Regions from separate parts of the Homo sapiens genome. Here region 1 is linked to region 2. Evidence: fine-mapped expression QTL. A gene starts in region 2. The other region holds a variant in brackets. All regions are shown on one strand. Distances are from middle to middle.

Region 1 (11,573 bases), 24 kb after region 2:
TGATATTTTGTTTTGCAGAGTAACAGCTATCCACCAATGTCAGATCCATACATGCCTAGTTACTATGCTCCATCCATTGGATTTCCATATTCTCTTGGGGAAGCAGCGTGGTCCACAGCTGGAGACCAGCCTATGCCATATCTGACAACCTATGGACAAATGAGTAATGGAGAACATCACTATATACCAGATGGTGTATTTAGTCAACCTGGGGCATTAGGAAATACCCCTCCATTTCTTGGTCAACATGGATTTAACTTTTTTCCTGGTAATGCTGATTTCTCTACATGGGGGACAAGTGGATCTCAGGGACAATCAACACAAAGTTCTGCTTATAGTAGCAGTTATGGCTATCCACCTAGTTCTCTTGGGAGAGCTATTACTGATGGACAGGCTGGATTTGGCAATGATACTTTGAGTAAGGTGCCTGGCATTAGCAGTATTGAGCAAGGCATGACTGGACTGAAAATTGGTGGTGACCTGACAGCTGCAGTGACAAAAACTGTAGGTACAGCTTTGAGCAGCAGTGGTATGACTAGCATTGCAACCAATAGTGTGCCCCCAGTTAGCAGTGCAGCACCTAAACCAACCTCCTGGGCTGCCATTGCCAGAAAGCCTGCCAAACCTCAACCGAAACTTAAACCCAAGGGCAATGTGGGAATTGGGGGTTCTGCTGTACCACCACCTCCTATAAAACACAACATGAATATTGGAACTTGGGATGAAAAAGGGTCAGTGGTAAAGGCTCCACCAACCCAACCAGTTCTGCCTCCTCAAACTATAATCCAGCAGCCTCAGCCATTAATTCAACCACCACCATTGGTGCAAAGCCAACTGCCTCAACAGCAGCCTCAACCACCACAACCACAGCAGCAACAAGGACCTCAGCCACAGGCCCAGCCTCACCAAGTGCAGCCTCAACAGCAGCAGCTGCAGAATCGCTGGGTAGCTCCTCGTAACAGGGGAGCAGGCTTCAACCAGAACAATGGAGCGGGCAGTGAAAACTTTGGTTTAGGTGTTGTACCTGTCAGTGCTTCACCTTCTAGTGTAGAAGTGCATCCCGTGCTGGAAAAGCTAAAGGCCATAAACAACTATAATCCCAAAGACTTTGATTGGAATCTGAAGAATGGACGTGTGTTTATAATTAAAAGCTACTCTGAGGATGACATACATCGTTCCATTAAATACTCTATCTGGTGTAGTACTGAGCATGGTAATAAGCGTTTGGATGCAGCTTACCGTTCCCTGAATGGGAAAGGCCCACTCTATTTACTCTTCAGTGTGAATGGCAGTGGACATTTTTGTGGAGTGGCTGAAATGAAGTCTGTTGTGGACTATAATGCGTATGCTGGTGTCTGGTCTCAGGATAAGTGGAAGGGCAAATTTGAAGTTAAATGGATCTTTGTCAAAGATGTTCCCAATAACCAATTACGGCATATTCGCTTAGAAAATAATGACAACAAACCGGTTACCAATTCAAGGGACACTCAAGAGGTACCCCTAGAAAAAGCTAAGCAAGTGCTTAAAATAATTGCTACTTTCAAGCATACCACCTCAATCTTTGATGACTTTGCACATTATGAAAAGCGTCAAGAAGAGGAGGAAGCCATGCGTAGGGTAAGAATATAGTAATTTTTTGTTTGGGGTCTTTGTATTGCTGGTGGGGTGCATGGATGGGTATATTCTGAGTTTAAGAACTTTCTGTGAAGGAAACCAACTACTTAAGAAACAACTCTACAAACACCCTTGAAGGTATCTATGTGTGTCCTATATGAACCATTTCTTCTTTCCTTTCCCAGGGTAACTCACGCTGAGTTAGCCTCTTGCTCATTCTTCATACTCCCTAGATGATAAAGGCCATTGGGCCTCAGTGTTTATCATCAAAGCTGAATGAATTTTGGCATTTGTAACTAAACAGACTTCATGAACTAACCAGGGGCTCTAATCATTAATATTATTAATCATACTAACATAGGAGAAAATATATTTAGAGTTTGAAACAACTTTTTTTTTGAGATGACATCTTGCTGTGTTGCCCAGGCTGGAGTGCAGTGGCTATTCACAGGTGCAGTTATGGCGTATAGCCTCAAGTTCCTGGCCCCAAGCAATCCTCCTGCCTTAGACTCCCAAGTAGCTGGGACTACAGACCTGTACCACTGAACCTGGCACTTAAAACAAGTTTTTATTTATTTATATTTTATATATTATTTAATTTTTTTTCAGACAGGGTCTCTCTTGTCCCGGCAGGAGTGTACTGGCGTGAACATGGCTCACTGCAGCCTTGATCTGCTGGGCTCAAGTGATCCTCCTACCTCAGCTTCCCGAGTAGCTGGGACTACGGTCACACACCACCACGCCTGGCTAATTTTTGTATTTATTGTAGATAGAGGGTTTCACCATGTTGCCCGGGCTGGTCTCCTGAGCTCAAAGGATCTGCCCCTACCCCTCTGCCTCCCAAAATGTTGGGATTACAGTCCTGAGTCACTGCACCCAGCTGAAACAACTTTTAAATAAATGTTTTACTCTAATTTTGTGTTTATAAGAAATTACATATATATATATATATATATATATTTTTTTTTTTTTTTTTTTTTTTCTTTTGTGAGATGGAGTCGCTCTCTGTCGCCCAGGCTGGAGTGCAATGGAGTGGTCTTGGCTCACTGCAACGTCCGCCTCCCGGATTCAAGTGATTCTCTTGCCTCAGCCTCCCGAGTAGCTGGGATTACAGGCACACGCCACCATGCCTGCCAAATTTTTGTATTTTTAATAGAGACGAGTTTCACCATGTTGGCCAGGCTGGTCTTGAACTGCTGACCTCGTGATCCGTGCGCCTCGGCCTCCCAAAGTGCTGGGATTACAGGCATGAGCCACTGTGCCTGGCAAAATATGTTTTTAAAACATAAAACTCTTGAAGTATTTTTATAATTTTTATACTTAAAGCACTTGTACAAAATAGAGGCTTTGCAGAATTTGATTCCTAATTCTGTTATATACCCTCTGTAAGATTGAGGGAGACATTCCTGAAATAAAACATGCTGTTTATCCTTGTATTATATTGGCCAGAATATTTTTATTTTTATTTTTTAAAAATATCCTATTGAGTGGCCCATATGGGGATTAGCCCCCCAAATATTGGCTAGACTTTGATCACAGGGCCACAAGAGTCAGTTCAACTAGGGAAAGTTTTCTCTTCCAAACTGTAACGTAAAATTGGGGTCCTATTTTTAGGTGGAAAGAGAAAATGGATGGGCTTTTCTATAGGGGATACATTTAAATTTCTTTTGAAACTTAGTAGGGGTAAAGTTAGAAGCTCCTCCAGTAAATAATGCTTGTTACTATGGAAAGCATGTTCTTATGGAATGCTTGTTCCTATGTAGAAATTAAGATAAAGAGGTAACTTAACTCTATGTAAAATCAGTGATTGTTTCTGTGTGTGAAGCTGAATATCTTGTCTTTGTGGTTGTGTGCAGCACAGGGAAGTGCTTCAACATTCCTCAGAGGGAAGGTGTTGGAATAATGACCCTAGAGCAGTAGTTTCCAAACCTTAAGTCACATAAGTGTTAATTGGGGTGTTTATTGAAATTGCAGATTCTCGAGACCCATCCCTTGGTATATTTGATAAAGGAACTTGCAGTGTACTTTTTAAGTATAAACATTCCAGGTGATTCTGGTGCTAGTTATTGATTGCTGTGTTGGATTGTTGGAAACTTTGCTTTGGAGTAATTAATACAAATGACTTTAAGGCTCTGCTGAACCTTTTAGATGGGTTGCTGAATATAATTGTGTTTTCTCCCACTTAAATATGAGAAATGAGAGAAATGGGATCAAAAGTAGCTACTGAGTCTTTCAGTTTAGCAGTTAAGTAAAGTGGTCATATTGTAACTGCCATTACAAGTAGCGCATCAGGAGAAATGATTTGAGGTATGAAAGGTGGGATGCAAGTTAAGACTTCATTTTTAGATTGTGCTGATTTTAAGATACCTTTGAGAAATATAGGCAGCAAAATCTCTGATTAGGCAGTTAGATGTCCGAGTCACAGATTTGGGGACCTTTTGTTCTTAAACAGTTAATAGCATGGAAGTGGGATGAGATTACTTAGGACAAAGGATACATGGCAAGGAAATACCAACTTTTCTTTCGCCCACCACTGAGGAGATAATCACCCTTCTGTGTCTTTTTTTTTTTCTACCAAACTTGAAAATTTAATCCTGGTTTTGTTATAATGTATTTGGTATGTTAATATTATGTAGTTGTTTCAGGAAATTTTTAATGACAGGTATATATTGTAGCTGTATTATTATATATATTGTAGCCATATACACAACAGTGATTTAAACTTTAATATTACCCTTATATTGTTTCATTGTTTTGTTAAATAAAGTTTATCCTAAAGCCGCCTCCTTACATATTTTAAGTCCAGCCTAAAGGTTTTTCTGTACATGGCGAACTATAACAAGTGGAGGTATAAACAGACCGCAGCCTACTCTTGTGCCAGTGACCAAATTTTGGCTGAATCAAATGTAGCCAACTGTTCAAATAAGGCAAATACCAACCTGTAATCAATCCAGCTGTTTATCTCACTTCCGTTTTCTGTATATCACTTTTCCTTTTTCTGTCTATAAAACTTCCACCACAGGGCTGTGCTTGAATGTCAGAGCCTACTCTGGCTGGCTCTGTGATTCGTGAATCACATTCATTGCTCAGTTAATCTCCTTTAAATTTAATTCAGCTGAAGTTTTTCTTTTGTCACGTTGCTGCCACCCTTTTTAATGCCTAACCCACCTTTGACAGCTCTATTTTGAACCTTGTTTAACTTATTATTTATTAGCAAGCCTTTAGATCCATAAAATGTCTTTGGTCAGAATATGTAAGCAACCATTTAGCTGGGTATAGAATTCTTTCTAGTCAACAGCCTTTTCACTTAAAGTACTATGTATAAGCCTTGCTTTACAGTTATGTGGTTTTATATTATGGAAAATTCTGAGGCCAGCCTACATTTTTTGTTTGTAAATAGCTGTTTTTTTGGTGTGTGCACAAAAGATTTTTCTTTATTTTTACATTATGAATGTAAATGTGAAAACGTGTACAATATGAATATTGTTTTCTGTAATCCTTTGTCTGCAGGCCACTTTTTTCTATTAATGTCAACAAATATGTTGAATCTTTGCCCTTGAGTTCTGTTGGTTCTTTATTCTTTTTCTCTTCATTTGGAGGATTTGAATTTTCCTGCTCACATATTTTTCAGTGTATTTTATTTGTGCTGTTTCTGTGATTTGTGAGGTTTTGCATTCTTCACTGATAGTATTTGTTTGCTTCTATTATCACATTCAGCTCCCCCTCTTAACTCTGTTTTCTTAATGGAATCCCTTGATCCTAGAATTCATCTTGATTTTATTGAGCACAAAAGACTGTGTTTAAAACTTATGTCTGCTTTCTGTACTTAATGTTTTTAGAAACTTTATATCTTTTTTCTTCTAAAAAAAATTAAATATAATAAAATTGTAAATTTCCTTGACCAGCCAGTTTATAGTCAAGCCCTCTCTCTCCCTCTCATTACTGAACCACTGATTGGTTGTTTGTCCCTATAAGACATTTTCCATATTGTCATAATTGAAATTATGTACTATATGATCTTTTAAGATGTTTATCTTTCACTCAGCATGGTATCTTTGCAATTCATCTATGTCGTTGTGTAACTCAATTCTTTGTTCCTTTTTATTACTAGGTAGTTTTCTATTACATGGATGGATGACCATTGTGTCTATTCCATTCATCCTTTGAAGGATATTTGGGATGTTTTCCTTTTGGGGGTAATGTAAATAAGGCTCCTATAAGAATTTGTGTATACTTAAAATATGTATATTTTTAAATCATACAATAAAATTCACTTTTGGCGGGGGCGTACAGCTCTATGAATTTTAACATATGTAGATTTGTGTAACCACCCTATCAGTTAGGATACAGAACAGTTTCGTCATCCCCCAAACCCTCCCTTATATACTAGCCTTTTGTTTTTCCATGCTTCCCCCATGCCTAAGCCCTGACAGCCACTCATCTGGACTCATAATTTTGTAAT[A/C]TCCTTTGTGGTTGTGGTGGCTTCAGGACTGTCTTTGGGCTTTTTGTGTTTAGTCATTGAACCAGTAAGAGAATCATTGAGTTCAGTTATTTGTCTCAGAATGGGTACTTTTACCCTCCCCACCCCGTTTCTTTCATTGCTGGATGCTAGTTGCATATACCTTTCTCTTTGCAAATGTGGAGATGGGAGAGTCATGCTGTAAATTGATTTTACCAGTTAAGTGATTGACCAGCCTGTGGAGATTTAAAAGGGAAAGCCAGTATAATGGGTTGTGCTAGGTATTTGACTGTCCCTTAAGTTTGAAACCACTGTGTTAGAAACCAGTTTTCCTTGCTTGTTAGCTGGTTAGCATATAGGGTACCATGTGTTTTTGTCCAGTTTTCTTCCTGGTACTTTTAGCCTTGTGTAGGCAGAATTTGTATTTTCATTTGTTGATTTTCTCTTTGATATGCTTGTGCTTGCATTTGGACTTCCCAGTATAACTGCTTTCAAATACTTTGGTCATTTTAGTGCTGAAGGAAGGATGTGCTGCCTGTCTATTCTAGGTCCTTCACTTCATTGAAAAGAACAAATTAGTGGTATTTTACTAGGATTTTCTTTACTACTTATGCCTTTTTTTTTTTTTTTAAATAAAAGTAGTTGTAAGTCATTATTAGTGTCTGGTTTTAATATGGCCTTATCTGTCATGTATTTAGCTGGAATTTCTCAAAGCTTCTGGTATGTGGATGTACTATATCCCCAAGTGAATATCTTGGAAACCTTGGGTAAAGGTTGGGTTTCTTAAACTCAACCTTGGGGGAGGCAGCACTAATTGCAAAAGACTGCTACATTTGATTAGATTAAAATCTGTCCATCAAAAGATGCTTTAAAGAAAGTTTAAGAGGCCTGGCTGGGCATGGTGGCTCACATGTGTAATCCCAACACTTTGGGAGGGAGGCCCAGGCGCATGGATTGCTTGAGGTCAGGTGTTTGATACCAGCCTGGCCAACATGGTGAAACTCTGTCTCTACTAAAAATACAAAAGTTAGCCAGGCATGGTGGTGCATGCCTGTAGTCCCAGCTACTCGGGAGGCTGAGACAGGAGAATTGGTTGAACCAGGGAGGTGGATTGCAGTAAGCCAGGATTGCACCACTCCACTCCAGCCTGGGTGACAGAGCTAGACTCCGTCCAAAAAAAAAAAAAAAAAAAAAAGCAGCAGCAGCCATGTTTCTTAAAAGACTAAAAGAAATTTGAACTTAACTGACTAAAGATTTTTATCAAGAGTATATAAGCTAGTGTGGTGGTGCATGCCTGTATTCACAGCTACCCAGGAGGCTGAGGCAGAAGGATTGCTTCATCCCAGGAGTTTGAGACCAGCCTGAGTAGCACAATGAGAGCCCATCTCTAAAATAAATGAATATATTTTTAAAAGAATATATATAGAAATTCTGTGAATTAATTTAAGAAAAGATAACCAATAGAAAAATAGTCAAAGATGTGAATAGGCATTTAATGAGAGGAAAAACATGTAGCTAATAAGAATATAAAGGCTTACGAAAAATGAGGGAATACGAGTCAGGACTACAGTGAGAATATTTTATATCCATTCATTTGGCAAAATTAAGAAGTTTGACAGTATCAAGTATTGGAAAGATTGTAGATCAACAAGACCTCTTACACAGTTGTAAATGAGAATCTAAATTGATAAATCTACTTCAAGAAGCAGTTTTGTATTTTCCTGTAAAGTTGAACATAATCTACCTTATAATTCAGCAGTTGTTTTCTGGGATACATACCTAATAGAAACTTTCATGTATAAGAATGTTAGGAGCAATCAATAGTTTTTTTTTTTTTTCCCCAAAAAAATGGCAGCAGTTCAAATGTCCATCATTAGGAAAATGGCCAAATATATTGGTGCCTGAGACAGTATAACAGAATAAACTGTAGTTAGATGCGAAAGTATTGGTAACTATACTTTTGCTTCATCTTTTTGGTCGTAAATAAACTTTTTGGGAGAGGCCGGGCATGGTGGCTCACGCCTGCAATCCCAGCATTTCGGGAGGCCGATGCAGGAGGATCACCTGAGATCAGGAGTTTGAGATCAGCCTGGCTAACATGTTGAAACCCCTTTTCTACTAAAAATACAAAAAATTAGCCGGGCATGGTGGCACATGCCTGTAATCCCATCTACTCGGGAGACTGAGGCAGGAGAATCACTTGAACCCGGTAGGCAGAGGTTGCAGTGAGGCGAGTTCGTGCTATTGCACTCCAGCTTGGGCAACAAGAGCGAAACTCTGTCTCAAAAAACAATAAAAGTAAAAAAAAAATAAATAAATTTTGGGGGGAATAAGAATATGTGAAACATTCATACCTTTTATCCAGATTCGCTTATTATTAACATGCTTCCCCATCTGCTTTATGGTTCTTTTGAACCACTTGAGATAACTTTCCCCCAGAAAACTATAGTGTTTTTTTCCTATAGGAAAGAATAAGGGTATTATCTTGCATAACCACAATATTCTGTCAGATGATCCATGGAATTGCTTATTGCTTTCTTCTAGTAGTGAATCCAGTCTAGGATCAGGTAAAGGATCTAACTTGGTTACAACAATTTTGAATAGTAAGTTTAGAAGGGTTATACTAACCTGCTTTCCCCAAGTTTGGGGAGATTTTAACTAAAATTTACATTGAGGTCTATAGTTACCGTATCTTTCTTTCATTTCCTTCCTATGTTCATGTTTTTCTTTAAATTCTTGAGCCTGATTATGACAACAAACAAGGACTTTAAAAACCTAATTTCATCTCTTGTCATTGCTAGATATTTTTTATTGACTGATTATTTTGGCAACAGGAGTTCCTCGGCTTGCCTTGCCAGCCAACAAGGCTCTTCCTGTGGAGGAGCCAACCTGTCATATCCTGTCTGCTTATATAAAACTTGGAATGTCAGGCCCTCTATTTTAGAGTGAAGGGTATTGGTGAAGCTTCAAATTGTCGGAGAAATCCATGCTAGTTAGTATTTGTATTATATTTGAAAACATAATTTTGATATATTTGAGTAAAATCAAGCTTGATGAATGAATAACCAATACCCCATTAAAAGAAGCTGTAATTCCGGGTGTGGAAGATAACTAAAAATACAAAACAAAATTGTGATTTGTGTTGTTAGGAAGGATTCCTGTGTAAAAAGAACAGAAAACCAGAAAGTGTTATTGGAAATTAGAGACATAATTATCAGAATTTAAAAATCTGAGTAACCAGATTAATAAAATGTCATGTTTTAGATCCAGTTGATGATCTGAAACTTCAGATTAGAGAAAAATTTCAAATGTGCAGCAATAGAGATGAAAATACAGAATGGGAAAGATGTGATGGAAAGAGAGGTGCTCCAGTATTTCTCTGAAAGAGTGTTAAAAGAATACAGGAAACAATAATCAAAAGGAGGAATGATTAACAAAAACAGATAAATATTTTCAGATGGAATGGGAGGAATACATGAGCCCAGGAGTTGAAGACTACCCTGGGCAACATAGTGAGACCATGTATTTACGTGTGTGTGTGTGTGTGTGTGTGTGTGTGTGTGACCCTGGGCAACATAGACCCTGTATTTACGTGTGTGTGTGTGCGTGCATGTGTGTGTCAGGGTCTCACTCCCATTGCCCAGGCTGGAGTGCAGTGGTGTGATCATAAGTTCACTGCAGCCTCGACTTTCCAGGCTCAGGTGATTCTTCCACCTCAGTCTCCCAAGTACCTGTGACTACAGGCATGCGCCACCATGCCCATCTAATTTTTCTTTGTTTAGTAGAGACAGGATTTTGCCATGTCGCCCAGGTTGGTTTAGAACTTAGAGCTCTGCCCGCCTCAGCCTCTCAAAGTTCTGGGATTACAGGCATGAATCACCACACCTGGCCTTTAGAAAAAATTTAAAAATTAGCCAAGTGTGGTGGCAAGTGCCAGTATTCCAGCTACTTGGGAGGCTGAGTTTGGAGTACTGCTTGATCCTGGGAAGTTGAGGCTGCAGTTAGCCGTGATTGTGCCACTGAACTCCAGCTTGGGCGACAGAAGTCTGTCTCTTAAAAAAAAAAAAAAAAATTAAAGGCTGGGCTTGGTGGCTCAATGCCTGTAATCACAGCACTTTCGGAGGCTGAGGCGGGAGGATCACTTGAGGTCAGGAGTTTGAGACCAGCGTGGCCAACATGGTGAAACGCTGTCTCTACTAAAAATACAAAAATTAGCGAGGCGTGCTGACAGGCACTTGTAATCCCAGCTCCTCGGGAGGCTGAGGTAGGAGAATCACTTGAAACCAGGAGGCGGAAGTTGCAGTGAGCCAAGATTGCGCCACTGCACTCCATCCTGGGCGACAGAGCAAGACTCCGTCTTAAAAAAAAAAAAAAAGAATAAAAAAGGACAAAGACAAAATCTTTAAAAGCTTCCTGAGTAAAAGACAAATTACCTACAAAGAAAGGAGAATCAGACTGTCATCAGAATTCTATAACCCTGGATACTCAAATTTAAAATCTTATTTTTGGGTTGAGAGGGGTGGAGAGGAGTGGTTTATGGAATTATACCTGTAAAGATGAGTGTTTAATTATATCAGTGAGGTGGGTTGGAGGGTCGGGGGAGTAAAAGAAGTGTAGACTTAAAAGAGCTTAGCCACGTACTGTTCATGAAACCATACTTAAAATGTTTCAGCAGAATGAAAAAGAATTCAAGAAAGAACAACAACCCGTAGCACCTGGTTATACTAGAACAAATATCTCTCAGCAGGGACCCTATGTGCATTTTATGTCACACAGGTTGGCATTGTTTATAGAGGATCAGAACTTTTGGCCATCTCATCCTGCCTACTTAATTCGCATTATGGTCCTTCACGCCTGACAGTGTGGGCCCTTGGTTGGGAACCACTGACCTTGGAGAATTGAAGGAAGCTAAAAAAAAATAAAATTTCTAGATAGCCTTTGTCATATTGGAAGATAACCGCTGAAAGAGCAGGCTTTGCTCTCTGCTGAATCCCTAGCACCTAGAAAAATGCTTAGCACACAGTAGGTTTTAAGTAGACATTTGTTAAAAGTGGAAATGCTTTGAAGAATCTCTTCCCATTTGCAAAGTATGAATGTGTAGAATTTTTTCTTCTTTATAGGTGTAATCGCTGTTACTTGATCATTGAAGTTATATAAAATGCTGTCTATTGGTTTTTTTCATTTGTAGAAATGGACAGTAGGATATAAAAGATTTAATTATATTTAGAACAAAATGTTATGAGATGGAATGGGAAGAGTTTAAGGAAGATTAAATCACTTATTGTCTAATCTTTTTGACAGTAACATAATTGTTTAAAGATATATCAGGAACGGTACCTTAAGCATATTGTTTCAAATCATAAGCACAGCCACTGGAATAATTAAAAATAGCGTGGCTTGTAGTACGGGAGAGGAGAAGAGAAGTGGGATATACCATATTCAATGTGATATGGTAAATTACTCATGTACAATGGGAATCGATAGCATCTGAATTGATAAG
Region 2 (11,573 bases):
GGAGAGGCACGAGCGGGAACCGGGGCTGCGTGCCACGCTTGCAGGCCAGCTGGAGTTCCGGGTGGGCGTGGGCTTGGTAGGCCCCGCACTTGGAGCAGCCAGCCAGCCCTGCTGGCCCCGGGCAATGGGGGACTTAGCAGCCAGGCCAGTGGCTGCGGAGGGTGTACTGAGTCCCCCAGCAGTGCCAGCCCACCGGCGCTGTGCTCGATTTTTCGCCAGGCCTTAGCTGCCTTCCCGCGGGGCAGGGCTCAGGACCTGCAGCCCGCCATGTCTGAGCCTCCCACCCACTCCATGGACTCCCGTGCGGCCCGAGCCTCCCCAACGAGCACCACCCCCTACTCCACGGCGCCCAGTCCCATCGACCACCCAAGGGCTGAGGAATGCAAGCGCACGACGCGGGACTGGCAGGCAGCTCCACCTGCAGCCCTGGTGCGGGATCCACTAGGTGAAGCCAGCTGGGCTCCTGAGTCTGGTGGGGCCTTGGAGAATCTTTATGTCTAGCTCAGGGATTGTAAATACACCAATCAGCACCCTGTGTCTAGCTCAGGGTTTGTGAGTGCACCAATCAACACTGTATCTAGCTTCTCTGGTGGGGCCTTGGAGAGTCTTTATGTCTAGCTCAGGGATTGTAAATACACCAATCAGCACCCTGTGTTTAGCTCAAGCTTTGTGAGTGCACCAATGGACACTCTGTATCTAGCTGCTCTGGTGGGGCCTTGGAGAACCTGTGTGTTGAAACTCTGTATCTAACTAATCTGATGGGGACGTGGAGAACCTTTGTATCTAGCTCAGGGATTGTAAACACACCAATCAGCGCCCTGACAAAACAGGCCACTCGGTTCTACCAATCAGCAGGATGTGGGTGGGGCCAGATAAGAGAATAAAAGCAGGCTGCCCGAGCCAGCATTGGCAACCCGCTCGAGTCCCCTTCCACGCTGTGGAAGCTTTGTTCTTTTGCTCTTTGCAATAAATCTTGCTACTGCTCACTGTTTGGGTCCACACTGCTTTTATGAGCTGTAACACTCACCGCGAAGATCTGCAGCTTCACTCCTGAGCCCAGTGAGACCACGAGCCCACTGGGAGGAACGAATAACTCCAGACGCGCTGCCTTAAGAGCTGTAACACTCATCGCGAAGGTCTGCCGCTTCGCTCCTGAGCCAGTGAGACCACGAACCCACCAGAAGGAAGAAACTCCGAACACATCTGAACATCAGAAGGGACAGACTCCAGACGCGCCACCTTAAGAGCTGTAACACTCGCTGCGAGGGTCCGCGGCTTCATTTTTGAAGACAGTGAGACCAAGAACCCACCAATTCCAGACACACCACCACCACTGTCGGCTTTTTTTTTTTTTTTTTTTTAATACATGGACTTTTGGTCCAACCCTAGAGCTTCTGATTCTGTAAATAAGGGCTGAGTCCTGAGAATCTGCATTTGAATAAGTTCCTAGGAGATGTTGCTGCTAGTCCCAAGGAAACAGTTTGAAGAAATTGCTTTAAGCAAATCTTAAGGTTATTTGATGTTTTCTGCTGCCTTTTTCTTACCATTGTAAATTTCTCTGCAGTAAACTTAAGAATAAATGGAAAAGTTTTGGCTTTTCTGTTTCAAAGCAGATTGATTGACTGATTTTTTACTTTATTCAGTGTCCTTCTTAGCTATTAGTGGTTTTACCTTATGCATGATATTTAAGAATACCTCCTTTTAAAAGTGCATCGATCAATCCTCAAGCTGAATTCTCTACACTTCGTTCATGTACTATATATGTTACTTAAAGATAACAGAAAGCCTTATAAATTTTGGCTTAAACACTGGTAAAATTCAAAGATAAGTTTAAGTGCTGCTAGTTAACAAAGCAAATCCAGGAAATTACTAGGCACAGAGTTTATTACTAAGTATCCCCCCACCCATTCTCCCCCTCTTCCTTAGTAATAAACATCCTCATTTTTAACTGAACACATGGCCACTCAGAATATATTTTCCAGCTTTCACTTAACTTTAAATACTTGTAGGAAACTATGTTTTAGTTAGTAGAAAGTAGCCAGAAATGTTAATATAGTTTGGATGTTTGTCCCCTCCAAATTTCACAATTAAATGTAATCCCCAGCCGGGTGCGGTGGCTCAAGCCTGTAATCCCAGCACTTTGGGAGGCCGAGGCGGGCGGATCACAAGGTCAGGAGATCGAGACCATCCTGGCTAACACGGTGAAACCCCGTCTCTACTAAAAATATGAAAAATTAGCTGGGCGTGGTGGCAGGATCCTGTAGTCCCAGCTACTTGGGAGGCTGAGGCAGGAGAATGGTGTGAACCTGGGAGGCGGAGCTTACAGTGAGCCGAGATCGTGCCACTGCACTCCAGCCTGGGCGACAGAGCAAGACTCCATCTCAAAAAAAAAAAAAAAAAAAGTAATCCCCAATGTTGAGGGTGGAGAGGCATTTGGATCACTGGGGCAGATCCTTCATGAATGGTTTAGCACCATCCCCTTGGTGATGATTGAGTTCTTTCTCTGAGTTCACAGAAGATCTGGTTGTTTAAAAGTGTGTGTCACCTCCCCCATCTCACTCTTGCATCCATTCTCGTCATGTGTAAGCTAGCTCCCCCTTTGCCTTCTGCCATGATTGCAAGCTTTCTGAGGCCTCATCAGAAGCCAAGCAGATGCTGGACCATGCTTCCTGAATAGCCTGCAGAACAGTAAGTCAATGAAACCTCTTTTCTTTATAAATTTCCCAGTCTCGGGTATTCCTCTGTAGCGATGCAAAAACAGACTAATACAAATGGGAAAAATGCAATTTCTACAAAATGTCCTTAAAGGAGAACAATGTGCTTTCTTAACCTTGTTTTTCTGCTGGTGGGAATGTGATTAGGATGGCTGGAAGTTGAGCAGCCATCATGGGCCACAGGTAGAGGTATCATAATGAGGATTGTTAGATATGAGTTCTAAATTTCTTTTCAAAGAATCAATATGTCAGTATGTTCAATTCTTTGCCTTTTACTTTTAAACTTAACTTCCTCATAAAGCAACCTTTTTCGATTACCTGCTCCATCCTGACTCATTCTGATTACCTACTCCACCCTGACTCATTCCAATTACCTGCTCTGTCATAACCATTTTTCCCGCCAAACCACTCACCCTGTCAGTCTCTTTAAGTTAGCCAGTCAGAATTAGTTTAGCCTGTGCGGTCTAACCCTAGCCAATAGGGGAACAACACAGCAGAAGGGGCCACATGCGTCAGGGATAGAACCCCTTCCCTTCCCTTGTCTAAGTCTGTGCTCACCGTTGTTCCATCTGTAAGGGTGCACCCTTCTGTAGAAGTAACTTGCCTTGCTGAGAATTAAAAAGTAAATTCTATATTCGAGTGCTACTTCTTTTGTGGCAACAAAACTTTATTTATAACAGGATGGTGGAACAACAGACTAGAAGAAGCCTGGATTATCTGATACAATGGCAACCCAAGTCCTGGAGTATATCCAGACTGCTGTTGTATGAGAAAAACAGATTTCTATCTTCGGCTCCTGTTATTTTGAACTTGATACCACTTGTAGCTGAACCTAATTTGAACTGATACAAGTAATCATACAGAAGTTACAGTTGTGCAGACTGGAACTTCACTGTCTGTAATTTCAGCACTTTGGGAGGCCAAGGTGGGAGGATCCCTTGAGCCCAGGAGTTGGAGACCAGCCTGGGCAACATAGCAAGAACATGTTGCTATAATTAAACAACAAAACAACAAATAACAACAACACACGCACACACAAACACCAAAGTTGGCTGAGGGAAAAATGGGGCCTTAAATCCAGCCTGCCCTCTCCTTTCCAAGCTTTGCACTGTGCTGTGTGCTCCAGGAGACTGACACACCCTAGTGGCTCTTTAGAAGAGTGCATTTTTACCTAGAAACTAGGCTCTGTGGCAACATTTTTCAAAATATCCTCTCCATTCTCCTTGCCCAAGACCATGGGAACCCATCTCTTGCATCATCATGACATGGATGTGAGACCTGGAGTCAAAGGGGATCATTTTGGAGCTTTAAAATTTGAGTGCCCTTTGCATGGGCCCTGTAACCCCTTTGTTTTGGCCAATTTCTCCCATTTGGAATGGCTGTATTTACCCAATATCTGTACCCCCTTTGTATCTACGAAGTAGCTGGCTTGCTTTTTATTTTACAGGCTCATAGGCGAAAGGGACTTGCCTTGTCTCAGATGAGACTTTGGACTGTAGACTTTTGGGTTAATGCTGAAATGAGTTAAGACTTTGGGGTACTGTTGGGAAGGCATGATTGGTTTTGAAATGTAAGAAATGAGATTTGGAGGGGCCAGGGCAGAATGATATAGTTTGGCTATGTCCTCACCCAAATCTCAACTTGAATTTATCTCCCAGAATTCCCACGTGTTGTGGGAGGGACCCAGGGGGAGGTAATTGAATCATGGGGACCGGTATTTCCCATGCTAATCTCATTATAGTGAATTAAGTCTCATGAGATCTGATAGGTTTATCGGGGTTTCCCACTTTTGCTTCTTCCTCATTTTCTCCTGCTGCCCTCCATGTAAGAAGTGGCTTTTGCCTCCTGCCGTGATTCTGAGGCCTCCCCAGCCATGTGGAACTTTAAACACAATTTAACCCCTCTTTCTCTTCTCAGTCTCGGGTATGTCTTTATCAGCAGCATGAAAACGGACTAATACACTCCTGGAGGCATTGGAGATGGTTTCAGGTAGTCCCCAGATGTACTTCAAAAGTCTGTTAATATTAAATTAAGTAGGTTTATATCTGAGGGTAGGTATTATTGCTAGGAAGAAAAGCCATAAAGAAAGAAGTTTGTTGAGCAAAAATGAAAGAGAATAGAAGCTCATAATATTATGTCATTAGGCAGTATTATATGGTAGTTATTAGAGTGGGAACTTGGGAGTCACACTGCTTGAGTTCAAATCCTGGCTCTCATAGTGACTAGCTGTGTTGTTTGTGGCGTGTTTCCTAACCTCACTGTGTCAGTTTTTATAATGGCACTTCTGCAAGGATGCTGTGGGAATTAACATGACATATAATGTGTTCTCAATAAATGTAAGCGATTACTATTTCCGGGAATCTTTTAGCGAAGGAACAATTCATTACCTGTATATAGCCACAATTTGCTGAAAGCTTACTTTTGTGTCAGGAACTGTACACGAAGGACCTAATTTTACTCATGAGGAAGCTAAAGCTTAGAAAGTTTCAGTGCCTTTACCAAGATTATAACACTAATTCTTGCTCCACTAGAATTTAAATTCGAATTGATTGGGTTCCAAAGCCATGATACTAAGGATCAAAGACAAGGCTTGCAAGATTTAAGCCTCCTCTTGTATATTCTCTCTCAAGTTCCTGGCTCATAGCATGTACCAGCAAACTCATTAAAACTAAAACGGTCTGTTTGGGAGTGAAGGATGGGAGACATTGAGAGCAACAGCAGAAAGGGTTGGGGGAGTCTTGGGAAATGCAAGGGTGCTTAGGTTGGGACCCGTGGCAATGAATGGAAGGGCAAGGGAAACTGTCTAACCAGAACTTAAAAATGCCTCTTGGTGATTTACATGAAAAGTGGCCTCTCAAGTTTTTCTATTATTCAGTGCTTCTAAGATACTGTTGCACTGTAAACCACAAAATTAATCTTATGATTCTACAATTTTACTTTCTAAATGATCACTTATTTGATGGTTTTTGAAGTACAGAAAGTATTTGGTCATTTAAATTATTTCCTTCCATGGACTCTGTATCACTGAGACAAGGAATCTTTGCCTTTATTGTAGATATTTCAATGAAAATGTCAACACGTTGCAAATTGGCATACTTTGGGTTTGCCAATATGTGATAAAGAACTTTTTCAATGGAAACTTTCCCTCTTTTCAGGGCCGAAAAGACGCTCTGCAACTATACTTAAGTATCCTAGGCAACTTTATTCATTCAAAAACATCAGAGCGGAGTCAAAAGCACAAATCCATGAATTGGGCGGCGAAGTCTGACTCCAGAGATTACGGCTGAACTGGGTTTGGAAAGACTGAACCCGCGCCGGTGCTCCTCCTGTTTGCTTGGACTTAAGTTTGAGTACCACAACTCTAACCTGCCACTTCAGCTGCACGGGCAGGCTTGTGGGGACCCAGCAACTCCGTCCAGAGAGCGGCTGAGTCAGCCAGCCGTCCCCACGGCTTTGGGCAGCCGCCGAAGGCTCCTGCTAGGCCCGGCTGGCTCACCGGGAAGTTCCCTGCCTCCGTCCCGTCAGCCTCCAGGAGGGCGCCGCCGGCCGCCGTGACTTCAGCAAGGCACTACTATCTCCGTCAGCCGCCGCCTCGGCCATCTTCCTGCCCGGAGTGCAACAAAATCCGGCTCTGGCCAGCCTTCCAGCTGACGCCACTCTGCCAGGGCCCTGCAGCCTCGGAGCGGGATAGAAGGAAGCCGCAGAAAAGACGCTGAAAGTTGGCGCTCGCTGACGCCCCGACGCGCTCCCTCCATGACGCATGCGCCCACCGGCCGTGAGCGCGGGTCCGGTCTCCGGTGACGTGGCGGTGAGGAGGCGGAGCCAAGATCAGCGGCGGGAGGGTGGGGGAGGAAGAGCGAGGTGAGCGCGGACGTCAGAGTGGAGAGCGGAAGGTCAGGGAGGCTCGGAGCGGAAGTGAGACTAGGGAGTCTGTCCGCCATTGTGGACCCGAGAAGCAGAGAGCGAGAGGGGGAAGAGGAGCGTGCAAGCGGAAAAGACGGGCCTCTTCCTCCGACTCCCGAGCGCGAGGCCCTCATTTTGGGTTCTCAGCGAACGGCGGCAGCGGCGGCGGCTGGAACAATCACTCGGCCAAGGGCGACAGCCAACTGCTGTGAGTGCACGGGGAGAGGCCCAGGCAGCGGCGGCGGCGGCGGCTCTCGGGTTGCGGTGAAGAATGTCAGCCACTAGCGTGGATCAGGTGAGGGAGCAGAGGCCCCAGGCTTGGCGAAGGCCCGAGCCCCGGAGCTCCACCCTCGCGCGGGGCTTCGGCTCCTCCCCGTCGCCGCCGCTGCCGGCCCCATAACGGTGCCCCGGGCGCAAGTTGCTGCGGTGTAGCTACCCGGGCCGGGGCGTGCGCCCTGGCCCCGTAGCTTGCGGGCGGGCGGGCGCGGTGCCGCGGCGGGTGGGGGCAAGGACCGGTCTTAGGGGCCTTAGGACAGATCCTGAGGGCGGCAGACATGGGGCGGAGACCGGGCGAGCTCTGGGAGACGGATTCCGAGTGGCGGGTGGGAGGTTTAAAGGCTGGGGGTGGTTGGGAAATTGGTGGCTGTGGAGGATATGGTGGGTTTTTACTCCTACGCGGATAGTCTAAAATAACTTGTCTTTGATAATGCCTTTGATTAACACACTTTTTCTTTTCTTCCTTTTTCTCCTCTTTACCGCATCTTTCGTCTTGCAACACAGAGACCTAAAGGGCAAGGAAATAAAGGTGAGTTTGGATTTTTTTTTTTCTTATTGCTCAATGTTGCCTTAATGTTACTTTTAAACTCTGTGAGGGTATTTTGTTTGTTTTTGCTCCCTCTTGGGAAAAAATGTAGGATTAGGGAAAATATTCATCATGGCTAAGGTAGCCAAGTTCTATCCAGAACTTCGGTAGTTCGTTGCTTTGAAGCCACTTTATAGAAACCAAAGTAGTACGAGAAACAGTTTCCTTGTCAGTTAAGCAGGTATTGGTGTGAACCTGGTGGTATTTCTTTGGTTTTCCAGTTTTTCTGTGTTATGTAACTTATGCCACAAAAAATTTCTACATGTGTATATAGACAAGTATATTCTTAAAGTGGACATTTTGTTTGACATGTCTGGATTACACTGGAAAATGGAAGTCTACATAGTATTCCATCACATTAATGAAAATTGTACTGTTAATCACTGATTCTATTGAAGTCAGTTGTAATGAGGCAACAACATGAGAGAGGTTAGAACTGAGTAGGCATGCCATCTTGCTCTATTGTTCTGATTGCAAGGTGTGACTCTATCTGGTATTTTATAAAGGGCTGAGAAGAAAATAGTTTGTGACATTTTTTCCAGGATTTTATAATTTTCTCTTTAGTAAAAGTACCATTGAAAGTAAAGTGTTTTTTTAAAAAGTGTGTTTTGTATTAATATGGAACAGTGCAGTCAGCTGACTGAAACATTATGACATTAGTCATGTGACATTTAGTTAAGTATAGAACAATAACTGCTTTCTTGGGATAGTGCCAATTAAATAACATCAGAGCAAATTATATATAACATTTTGTAGTGCTTGAAATTACACTAAAATTATGCTTTCTGTTGATTTCAGTAACACAGTGTTAGAAATTAAGATCTATAATAGCCTTTTAGATATAGATTGTCTTTGGTGCCCTTTAAATTCTTGTTAGGGTATTTATTTGCTATTGCAAATTTGGTGAATTTAATAGGTTTTGGATATGTAGATTAGTTTCCTCTGAATTATGGAATTTGTACATACCAGTTACATGGCACCATATTAGGTAACATTTTGTTTGTTTTCATTAAAGATGTTTTCTTGCAGTATGTAAATATTTAGACATTTTAATTTTTAAAATTTCATTTCTAGAATTTTTTTTGTTGTAAGCATAAACCTGAAATAAAAATTGGATATTGATTTATTTTAAATGAGTTTTTAAAAATTTGTGAATTTTAAAAAGAATGATCCATTAATTTCTTCTTTTGCTAGTCTACCCATTAGGAACTATGTAGACTTGGAGATTGTGAAATTGTGGTCATTATTGCCTAGCATAAATTATTTTATCCTAGATCTGTGGGGAGGTGGCACTTTGCAAAGCTATTTGAAATGCTAAGTGTTTTATGTTACCCGCTTTAAGGTAAGTACACAAGTTCTATGAGGTACTTGTTTGTTAAAACAAAATAGAGCCTCTACAGCACTGTAAGTCAGTAAAATAAGTTTGATTTATGAGTGGTCATTTCACTTAGGTAGGCACTGGTGGCATCTTTGATATTAGATATGAGTTGAGTTATCTATAAACTGCATAATACATCCACTGTTTGCAAATAAGTATTTTTTGGTTATTTCAAAAATTTTTATCCATCAGTATCGCTTCTGTTAGTTGTATTCAGACACATACACAAAGTGTTTATTTTGATAGTTCTTTATTCTCAAGAAATTTTCTTTCTTTCCCCCTTGTTGTTCAGTTTAATAATTTCATCTAAGGTTAGAATAATGGATTGGGATTCCTTGGAGTCCTGAGTTCTAATACTGCCTTTGGCTACTGACTTGCCAAGTGAGCTTGAAAACATTTTACCTGTCTGTCAGAATCTCCCCTCTATAAAATAAAAATAACTCTAGTCATAATTCCCATAATTCCTATAGTATGTTGTTAGGATTCTTGTAATTACAGTAGTTCACTGCTCTAGTAGCAATTATATTTGCTGGATTTCTTTTCACTTTCCTCACTTAATCTATTTTTAAGGTGCAGGAAGACTCCTTTGCATGGAGCCTTGGCAGGAGGGGAAAAATGCTACTGGCCTGAAAGTATTGCTAATTATTTAAGTTTCTTAAAAATGGCAGATGCTACAAGTGCACAAATAACAAATATACGTTACTTGTATTTTTATGACTGCAGGGAGAATTACAAGGCAAAGGCAACACTACCAGTGAACCTGATATAAGTAGCTATGTGTGTATTTGAGAAAAGCTTTTCTGCCTTAGCTTGTTCCCAGCTCGTAAAATTGTTTTACAATTCTGTTTACTTTCATGAAGTTATTTTTCTTGAACTGCAACCTCAGTATTCTAAATATGAGTAATCTTGAATTCTGAACTTAGCAAGCTTATGAAAAATAGTATGTCCTTGAGAAGTTGGTGTCAGTTAAAGTTTTGAACACGTAATCCTTTTCAGTCAACTTACTATAATTTCAGAGATCCTGTTTCTTTTCTGAATTGTCTTTAGTTGACAGCTTTAGCCTAACACCTAGTTTTAGTGTCTTTGATTTTCTATATATCCTTAATTACTTAATTCATTACAGAAGCCAAAAGGAATTCTAAATAATTGTCTTTGATATGGCAAAAATGTTTTTTGTAGAATAAGTAATAATTCAAGGTTTACTTGTTTTATAAGTTTGAATTCTTTTTTAATTAAGTCTGTCCCTGTGTTAAATATCAGAACTCTTTATTATCCTTGGCAAGAGTAGTACCAAAGGATAGTAGAAATTTAAGGATAATTATTTGCCTATTGGTTCATAATTTAACACTTCGTATTTTATTTTTTTATTAAGTAGAATTTTTGCTTATTGGAATAAAGGTGTGCAGTACTTTTATTTGGGAGTACTATGGTTGGAAGTGTCAGATGCCATACTTACAGTCTTAGGCCTTACTGCCTCCTTTCTCCTCTAAGTTTATAAATAGCAAATTCATGGAACAGGATTTATCTTTTTCCTCCTCTCCGCTCTCTTCCAACGGAGAGACGTATGCATTGTTTTATACAACTGTAATTTAAAATAATTAGGTTAAATTTGGCTAAGTTTTAATTTTCGAAAAGTAGTGGAAAATGCCTTATATTTTGGCAATATTCTGTTGTATTCTCTCCTCGTCCTCCCGAGAAATGATTTCAAAGCACTTTACTATCATTATTTTAGGCTTCATTTTATCAATCCTCACAACATCCTTGTAAGGAGATAGCGGGTATATGGTATTGTCGCTGTTTTTGTAGGTGGGGAAACATGATGCACAGATCTGTTGACTTTCCTAACTTGATGTAGTCAGGACCAGAGCAAAGAATCACCTGGCTCCTAAGGCCCATGTTCTATCTTGATTTGACTCTGTTTCATAGAGCAGAGGAAACAGGCGAAGAATCATGTAAGTCATCTGTTCTTTTTACCCCTGAAGAAATTTTACAGACTATGGAACTAGCTTGGATTTCATTTCTATTTAATGGTTTTCAGACTCCAAGACATTAGCTTGTCATTAAGTAAATATTCAAAAACGAAAGTCTTTAAGATAGTTTTCTTTAAGATACACTTCCAAAACTTAAGGGCTAGTTTAATGCAAATTGCTTCTCGGTATATGTGAAGTACTTTTAATTAAACATTTTTTAAAGTAGATTGACTTTTTGTACTATATTTTAAGACTTTATAGACATTTATGCATCATTTAAAAATGACCGTAGACTGTATTTATAATAGTATATGGGTTGTTCTCAGGCCTAGCCTCTTAGAAGAGAAATAATAGAACAAAAAAAATAAGAATAACAGGATTATATTTATATATATATACAGATAAATTTTAAGTAAGTACTTTTTCCTTTTTTTTTTTTTAAATAGAGGCAGAGTCTCACTCTGTACCCCAGGCTGGAGTGCAGTGGCATAATCATAGCTCAGTGTAACCTGGAATGCCTTGGCTCAAGTGATCCTCCTTAGACTCCTGAGTAACTAGGACTATAGGCACATGCCACCACTCCTGGCTAATTTCTAAACATTTTTCGTAAAGGTGGGATCTTGCTGTGTTGCCCAGGCTGGTCTTGAGCTCCTGGCCTGGCACTTTTTGTATTTGTATGAACTAGATTTTCGAGAACCTAGTGGATATGAGAGATAGTTAGTCATAATTTTTAAGTTGTTAGCTGT

Evidence for each region.
Region 1: its variant is fine-mapped to the expression of YTHDF3 in whole blood (TOPMed, PIP above 0.99).

Annotation. Positions count from the first base shown.
Region 1 is chr8:63,186,129-63,197,701 of GRCh38, forward strand. It overlaps YTHDF3 (YTH N6-methyladenosine RNA binding protein F3), which reads left to right. Exons shown (of 5, transcript NM_152758.6): 4 at 19-1,617. Among named protein-coding and RNA genes, the nearest start is that of YTHDF3, 23 kb to the left of the region's middle. The variant A/C (reference allele first, on the strand shown) is at 6,077.
Region 2 is chr8:63,161,990-63,173,562 of GRCh38, forward strand. YTHDF3 (YTH N6-methyladenosine RNA binding protein F3) reads left to right here and starts at 6,632. Exons shown (of 5, transcript NM_152758.6): 1 at 6,632-6,912; 2 at 7,398-7,422. The coding sequence starts at 6,889. It overlaps YTHDF3-DT (YTHDF3 divergent transcript), which reads right to left and starts at 6,453. Exons shown (of 1, transcript NR_102684.1): 1 at 5,736-6,453. RefSeq lists enhancers at 6,175-6,394, 6,595-6,914 and a silencer at 6,995-7,234.